Linked DNA regions of Homo sapiens. The protein of the gene in region 1 interacts with the protein of each later gene in a pairwise test. Each region holds a gene or a part of one and is shown on either strand. Other genes may lie near its edges.

What was found. The genes of interacting proteins can lie anywhere in the genome.
Region 2: the proteins of CLDN2 (region 1) and LPAR3 interact in binary tests that used the Homo sapiens proteins (3 or more experiments, as listed by UniProt).

The regions. Positions count from the first base shown.
Region 1 is NC_000023.11:106,919,147-106,923,201, reverse strand, and holds the start of CLDN2 (claudin-2), read right to left. Parts: upstream 2,801-4,055; 5' UTR 2,651-2,800; intron 1-2,650. UniProt on the Homo sapiens protein: Forms paracellular channels: polymerizes in tight junction strands with cation- and water-selective channels through the strands, conveying epithelial permeability in a process known as paracellular tight junction permeability.
Region 2 is NC_000001.11:84,862,207-84,865,706, forward strand, and holds part of LPAR3 (lysophosphatidic acid receptor 3), read right to left. Parts: coding exon 3,179-3,500; intron 1-3,178. UniProt on the Homo sapiens protein: Receptor for lysophosphatidic acid (LPA), a mediator of diverse cellular activities. May play a role in the development of ovarian cancer. Seems to be coupled to the G(i)/G(o) and G(q) families of heteromeric G proteins.

The sequences.
Region 1 (4,055 bases):
GGAGTTTGAGACCAGCCTGGCCAACATAGTGAAACCCCGTCTCTACGAAAAATACAAAAATTAGTTGGGCGTGGTGGCATGTGCCTGTAATCCCAGCTACTAGGGAGGCTGAGGCAGGAGAATCGCTGGAACCGGGAGGTGGAGGTTGCAGTGAGCCGAGATTGTGCCACTGCACTCCAGCCTGAGCGATAGAGCAAAACTTTGTCTCAAAAAAAAAAAAAAAAAAAAATCTTCAGAGCTCTTAAGTATTTCAGGATGAAGTTCAAACTTGCTAGCCCAGGAAACCAAGAAAGCCCTCCATTATTTCACCCCGGCTTTTCTTCACAGCCTCATCTCACACCATTAACCTCCAACCTCATGCTTTATGCTCCTATACATACACATATGATCCAGCCAAACCTAAGCACTTGAATTTCTCTGACTGCCTTTCTCTCTGTCTCCAAGCCCGTAAGCATGCTATTCTACCATCCACCATTTGCTTGGATAATTGCAAATCATCTTTGAGGATGCATCCTTGCCTTGAAACCATCCTTGGGCCCTCCCTGCTCCTCACCCAGGCTGGGTTCAATACTTTTCCTTTCTTCCTCCTATTTGTATCTGAGCTTTCAGTGAGAATTGGTGAGATACCTTGAGGTTTTCAAGGGGAAGACCTACTGCTTCCCAGAGGAGCAGCTCCTGCTTCAGCCTTCCTGGGATGGCAGCTGAAGAGTCAAGCTTGAGTTTCCCAAGGGAATCAACAGTGTCCCCAAGAGGAAAGCCTCTCCCCAGAGCCTGTCCTAAGTAGTAGTAAGTAGGCAAGTGTTTTGGGGTGAGGGAGAGGGCAGAGTCAAGAAAATGCCATTACTGAGGCTTGGAATCTCTAGAGTCTGACTTGGCATAGCAGCATGCCCAGGCAGGAGGAAGAACAAGTTATTGGAGCTTATTCAAGTGATAGAAATGGCCCCATGGAGGGGGGGTTCAGCTTTCCACCAGAGTTAGGAAGACCAGCTAAATGGCGAATGGTTGGGTGGTGAGACAGGCTGGATTCAGCCAGGTTTTTGTTTGTCTGATGAGCAGTAGAGGTGAGGGCAGACAGGGTCCTGGTGTTAGAATCAAAAGATCTAGCTTCTTGTTGTGTCAGTTCTGCCTAGAACCTGCTGAGGAAGTCCTATAGCTTCTCTAGGCCCTAGTTTGTCATCTCCAAGATTTTTAGTCTCAAATAAAGGCATGGGGACAGGAAGCCACTTTGACAAATATAGAAGACTGAAGAGCTGTTATTAGAAGCAGCCAGTTTTAATAGAAGCCTCTCTTTGAGGGATCCTCCTAGAAGTCAAGTACTGGCTGCGTTGGAGGTACAGAGGACTCTAGGCCTTGTCAGCTGAATTTGTCTTCTGGGCATAGGGCCAACATACTCCATGGCCCAAGGACTGGGCAAGAAAGTTTAACTTAGGATCCTTACTTAATCTTCCCTAGTGGGGAGATTGGAGCTGCAGGAGAGGATTAGGAGGGTCAAGATTGACCGCAGCTCCTGACTTAACCCCTTCTCACCTAGGTACTTTCCCTGCTATTCTCCCCATCTCTTGCTCCAAGAGTCTTGTGCATGGTACTCTTTCTTTGGCAGTACCCTCCTAAGACTACATGGGACAGGGCACTTGGGGTTCCCAGGCTCAAGGAAGGAACTGATGTGGCCTTCTGGGGGTGATGATGGCCACCACAGCCCTCTTCTGTCAGTCAGCCTCATTTCTATATCCCTTGATCTCACTGCCCCTCATAAGAATCTGAGACACTTGCCCCCTTCTCTGAAACTCACTTCCAGCTGCCAAGGGCACTAGTAGGTGGCAAAGCCATTCCCTTGAGGCCCTACTTTCTTGAAAGTTTGTCCTTAGAGCAGTTCATCTTTCCTTCTACATCAATTGATTGATGGCAGTTCAGAGAATTGCAACTGGATTGAGAGATTTTCTTATTGTTTGAAAAAGAAGTTGATTTTTGTCCTGATCATCAAAGTAAAGCATTCTCACTTTAGAACACTGGAAAACACAGAAAGGCAGAATTTAGAAAACAAAAATCGCCTACGATCTCCCCGGCCATAAGTGCTGTGAATGTTTTGGTTCCAACTGCATTTTCAAAGAGGGCACTTGAAGAGAGTAATACCTCAGTCGAAAGAAGGAATTTCTAATGACAGACTTGCAGACCAGTGAGGGAGAGTCCTTGAAGGACCTCATGGGGAAACTTTATGACTTCACTTAGGAACCCACCTTCTGCTACCTCCCTGAGCCTTCATGCCAAGGAGGGCACTGGAGCTGGCTGTGAGGGAGTGCCCCTTCTGCCACTCCTCAGTCCCCTACACTTAGGCAGAGGGGTAAACTGTGGCTCCCTTCCTCCAATTTTTATCCCAGTCCTTTTAAGCCCCCAAACCAGAAAATATCTGATTTGGAGAGTGCTTTCTCTGGTCCTGAAGTTTTAAAGATTTGAACCTTTGTGATAGCTTTGAGGGAACAAATACCACCAACCCAAATGCCACCGGAGTTTCCCCTCCCATACCCTTCACTCAGAAACCCAAGGTGGCCCAGCCTGGCTCCACCATGGGGTGAATGGATAGTGACTAGGAAGGAAGAGTGCCCACCTCGGTGAATTTAAAAGGCAGCAACTATATCAGGATGGAGATACTTACAGGGCAGTTCTTTGCAGAGCCTTGGAGGGGGAGATGCCCCTGGAGAGGGAGAAAGGGATCCTGAGGGAGGGGAGCGAAGTACAAGGGGCCACGGGCTGAGGTGATAAAGGATTTCTAATCGTTAACCACAGCTTTGCAAAATCCATCTGCAAATCTGAGCCGTGGGTCAGAGACTTATTACAGATCAGAATTAAACCCCTGGAGGCTGGGAAAGATTGAGGCACTTTAGAAAAAAAAAAAAAAAGGTTTGGTGGGTTTTCTGTGTGTGTTTTTTTTTTTCTGTCAAAAACTCCACTCCAGCTGGGCTTTTGTGTGGTGACCTCTGTGAACCCAGGAGAGGCCTTGTGGGGAGGGGGATTTGGCCCAAGAAGGAATTCAGAACATTCCAGCTTTGAGGGTGGTGAGAGGAGGGGGCTCTGTCCCACCAATTAGGTGTCCCTGGCTAGCAGCCCTGAAGCCCAGCAGGGAGTAAGCTGCATAAACACAGCCCTGGTGAGCCAGTGCCCAAGCAGCCCTGCATGGCCTGCAGCTCCATAGACTTTTCTACTCAGCTTGATTCTCTGGCAGGCCCTCAGCCCTACCCCACCCCTAAGGTTGGTCCCAAGGCTCAAGGGCAAACATGGGTACTGTAGGTTCAGACTCTGAGTTCAAAGAGCAGGTCCTACAAGGTGGAACTGAGTAGGCCAGCATAAGGACAGGGCTCTCCTTTTTACCACACATGGCAGTGCCATGCACTATGTCATTTAAGCCTCTCAAAAGTGCTGTGAAGGCCGTGTGCAGTGGCTCACGCCTGTAATCCCAGCACTTTGGGAGGCCGAGGCGGGTGGATCACCTGAGGTCAGGAGTTCGAAAACAGCCTGGCCAACGCGGTTAAACCTTGTCTCTACTAAAAATACAAAAATTAGCTGGATGTGGTGGTGCGCACCTGTAGTCCCAGCTACACGGGAAGCTGAGGCAGGAGAATCACTTGGACCCAGGAGGCGGAGGTTGCAATGAGCCGAGATCATACCACTGCACTCCAGCCTGGGTGACAGAGTGAGACTCCATCTCAAAAAAGCAAAGCAAACAAACAAAAACCCAAACAACAACAGAAATAAAACCAAACCAAAACAAACAAACAAAAAAACATGCTGTGGAGTAGTAGAGCGCAGTGACTGGCTTTACTCTCCCAACGCAAAAAAGCTTTCTAGTTTTTTCTAAGTAGAAAAATACTAGATGCTATTGAAAAGAATTCAGAAAATGAATTATAAAGAAGAAAATAGAGGTCCTCATAATGCCACCAGCCAGAAATAATCATTGCTAACATTTTGATGTATTGTAGAAGATATCGATGGGATTTGTTTTATAAAATTGAATCACACTATACCTACAGTTTATGTAACCTTACATCATTTGTAAATAACAT
Region 2 (3,500 bases), on another chromosome or scaffold:
TCAAAAACATCAATATCTTCTCCAGCTCGAGGGGAAATGCCGATTAATGTGAACCCTCTTTTTCTTGTTCTTGTCCATTTTCTTATCAATGTGTCAACGGTGTCAAAGCAGAAGACAGGACAAAAAGATGAGCGTAAAAAGTCCAGATAAATCACAAGTAGCCACAGAGTATGGTGGTAAATATGTGAACTCTAGAGGCCAGCTGCGCAGTGAGTCTTGGTTAACAGCTGAGTGACTGGACACACTGCTTAAACTCTCAGTTTCTCCATCTGGTAAATGGGTATAATAGTAGCACCTATCTCACAGGGTTTCCATGAGAATTAAATAAGTTAATGTTTGTAAAAACACTTAGGACAATGCTTGGCACATATTAAGCACTATATAAATATTTGTTAAATAAATCCTCAGTTTGAAATTATTTTAACAATCACACTCTGTGTCTGCTGACCCCCAAATCTTACTAGCAGTTTCAGGACCTAGAGGCATTGTGAGGGTTTCTATACCACACCACACATACTGTATCCTCCACTATGAACTGCTACCTGATAATTCATTTTATAATTCCTTCTCATAAGGAGTAGACAGAAATGTACTCCTGAATCTCTCTCAGCAACAGTCCCCATTGCTGCAGCCACACACACAGTGAGAAACGGCCTCTCTGCCTTACAAGACAAGTTCTGTGAAACCACAAAAGTTCTTGTCTGCCCACACATTACAAATTCTACCTGTAACCCAGAATTAGAACTGGGGAGGTGGGGCAATAGGCCACCTACTTCAGAGAAAATAAAACAAAGGGAAAATTCTACGAAACCACATGTCTTCTTGGTACAGGGCTCACAACCTTTCTCTCCTCCCTTTTTTTTTTTTTGGTTTTGTTTTTGTTTCTTAAGACAGGCTCTTACTCTGTTGTTCAGGCTGGAGTGCCGTGGTGTGATCACAGCTCACTCAACCTCAACCTCCCGGGTTCAAGCGGTTCTCCCACCTCAGCCACCCAAGTAGCTGGGACTACAGGTATGCACCACCATGGCCAGCTAATTTTAGTATTTTTCATAGAGATGGGGTTTCACCATGTTGCCCAGGCTCTTCCTTTCTTTCTCAATTTTACTCCAATCAGGCTCTTGGCTATACCAAATGTGATGATCTCAAGATCAGCACAAGTCCACCACTTTGGTAAGGCCAGCAACACCTGGTCTTACACCACCTCTCAGGGGTACCAACACTGCTAATGCTTCCTCTCCTCGATTGCCTTCTTCTCTTTCTTCTAGTTCCCCAGAGTCTCCTGGGTTTTCCATCCCTTCTAGGGCTCCTTTGCTGGCTGCCCCTTACCTCCTGACCTCCTTACACTGGAGGGCCTGCCCTACGGCTCCATCCTTGGTCCTCCTCTCCTTCATATCCACATTCACGTTCATGGTGAGCTCACGCAGTCCTGTGATTTAAAATACCAGTTTCCCCCCAGGACTCTCAAATGTACATCTCCAGCCCAGACCTAAATCTTGAATTCCTGAGTCAAACATCCAACTGTCCACTCAATAAAATTGCCACACCCCTTGGATGTCTAATAGGTTCCTAAATTTAGCTTGTCCAAAACCAAATCTTCCCCCAAAACCTCCTCCTCTTCAGTCTTCCTCATCTTGGTTAATGACATTCCCCACCTTCTCCTCCACCTCTCATCTTCCCCTCTACCTTACCCATCAGTAAATCCTTTAAAAAATATCTGGAATCTGGCCAGGTGCAGTGGCTCACACCTGTAATCCCAGTACTGTGGGAGGCCGAGGCAGGCGGATGGCTTCAGCTCAGGAGTTCGAGAGTAGCCTGGGCAACATGGTGAAACCCTGTCTCTAAAAAAATTACAAAAATTAGCCGGGCCTGGTGGCACAGGCCTGTAATCCCAGCTACTTGGGAGGCTGAGGTAGAAGGATCACTTGAGGCCAGGAGGTGGAGGTTGCAGTGAGCTGAGATTGCACCACTGCACTATAGCCTAGATGACAGAGCCAGGTCCTGTCTCAAAAAAAAAAAAACAAAAAACAAAAAAACAGAATCTGACCATCACCTTCAACTACCATCTGGCCATGGTGATCTCTCCCGAGTACTGAAATACTCTATTAACCCATTTATGCCAGGGGTTGCAAATTTCTTTTGTGAAAAATCAGAACTTGTCAATGACCTTGAGCAGTAGGATATAAATAACTCCCACAAGCTTAGCATTCCAATAATGGAACACTAGGCATAAATAGGTTAAACAATTTTCCTGTTTTTGCTATTGCCTCATTACAGCAGTGTCTTAAAACAGTAGCCAGAGAGATACCATTAAAATATAAGTCAGATCATGTCACTCCCCTGTTTAAAACCTTCCCATAGCTTCTCATCTCACTTGAGACTGGCCCAGCCAACATGGAGAAACCCCATCTCTACTAAAAATACAAAAATTAGCTGGGCATGGTGGTGCGCTGCCTGTAATCCCAGCAACTTGGGACGCTGAGGCAGGAGAATTGCTTGAACTCGGGAGGTGGAGGTTGCAGTGAGCTGAGACGGCACCACTGCACTCCAGCCTGGGTGACAGAGTGAGTGAGGCTCCGGCAAAAAAAGAAAAAAGAAAAAAAAATGAAAAGCTGAAGTCCTTATAACCACATGACCCTACATTATCTGAGTAGCCCATCCCCTACCCCACCAGCTCCCTGACCTCATCTTCTCCTACTCCCTCTGCTCGATCCATGCAGCCATAGTGGCTTCCTGGCTGGTCAGGGCTCCTGTGCTTACCGCTTCTCCCACCTGGAACACCCTTCCCCAGACACCAGTATGGTTCACTCCCTGACTGCCTTCACACCTCTGCTCAAAAGTCATCTTCCAGGCATCCCTCACAACACTTTTTTAAAGTGCAAACGATACCTGCTTAGCTTAGCACTCTCCAGCTCCCTTCCCTGCTTTATTTTTCCTTCCTTCCCTGATTGATTTTTCCACAGGAGACTCATCTTATTTCACTTAATTTGTTTACCCCCATTAGAATACTTATTTTATCTTTCCTTATTAGAGTGTAAGCTCCAGGTGGGTGGCGATTTATGTCCGTTCTTGTTCACTGCTGCATTCTTACTGCCTAGTAAGTGCCTGGTACACCACAGATGCTCCGTAAAGATTTGCTGAATGAATGGGAATGATGGCTTGCTTGGGTCCTCTTACCTACCTAAGACAGTCATCACCGTCTTCATTAGCTTCATGGGTGTCCTCCGGCGGCTGATGGACCCACTTGTATGCGGAGACAAGACGTTGGTTTTCCTCTTGACGTACACGTAGATCCGCAGGTACACCACAACCATGATGAGGAAGGCCATGAGGTTGGACACTGTCCAGAAAACAAGGTAACTCCTGCTGTAAATGGGGGCCAGGGAAGAGCAGGCAGAGATGTTGCAGAGGCAATTCCAGCCCAGTGTGGGGACCGCCCCCATAAAAATGGCGATGGCCCAGACAAGCAAAATGAGCAGTGTCACCCTCTTTTTGGTCAGGTT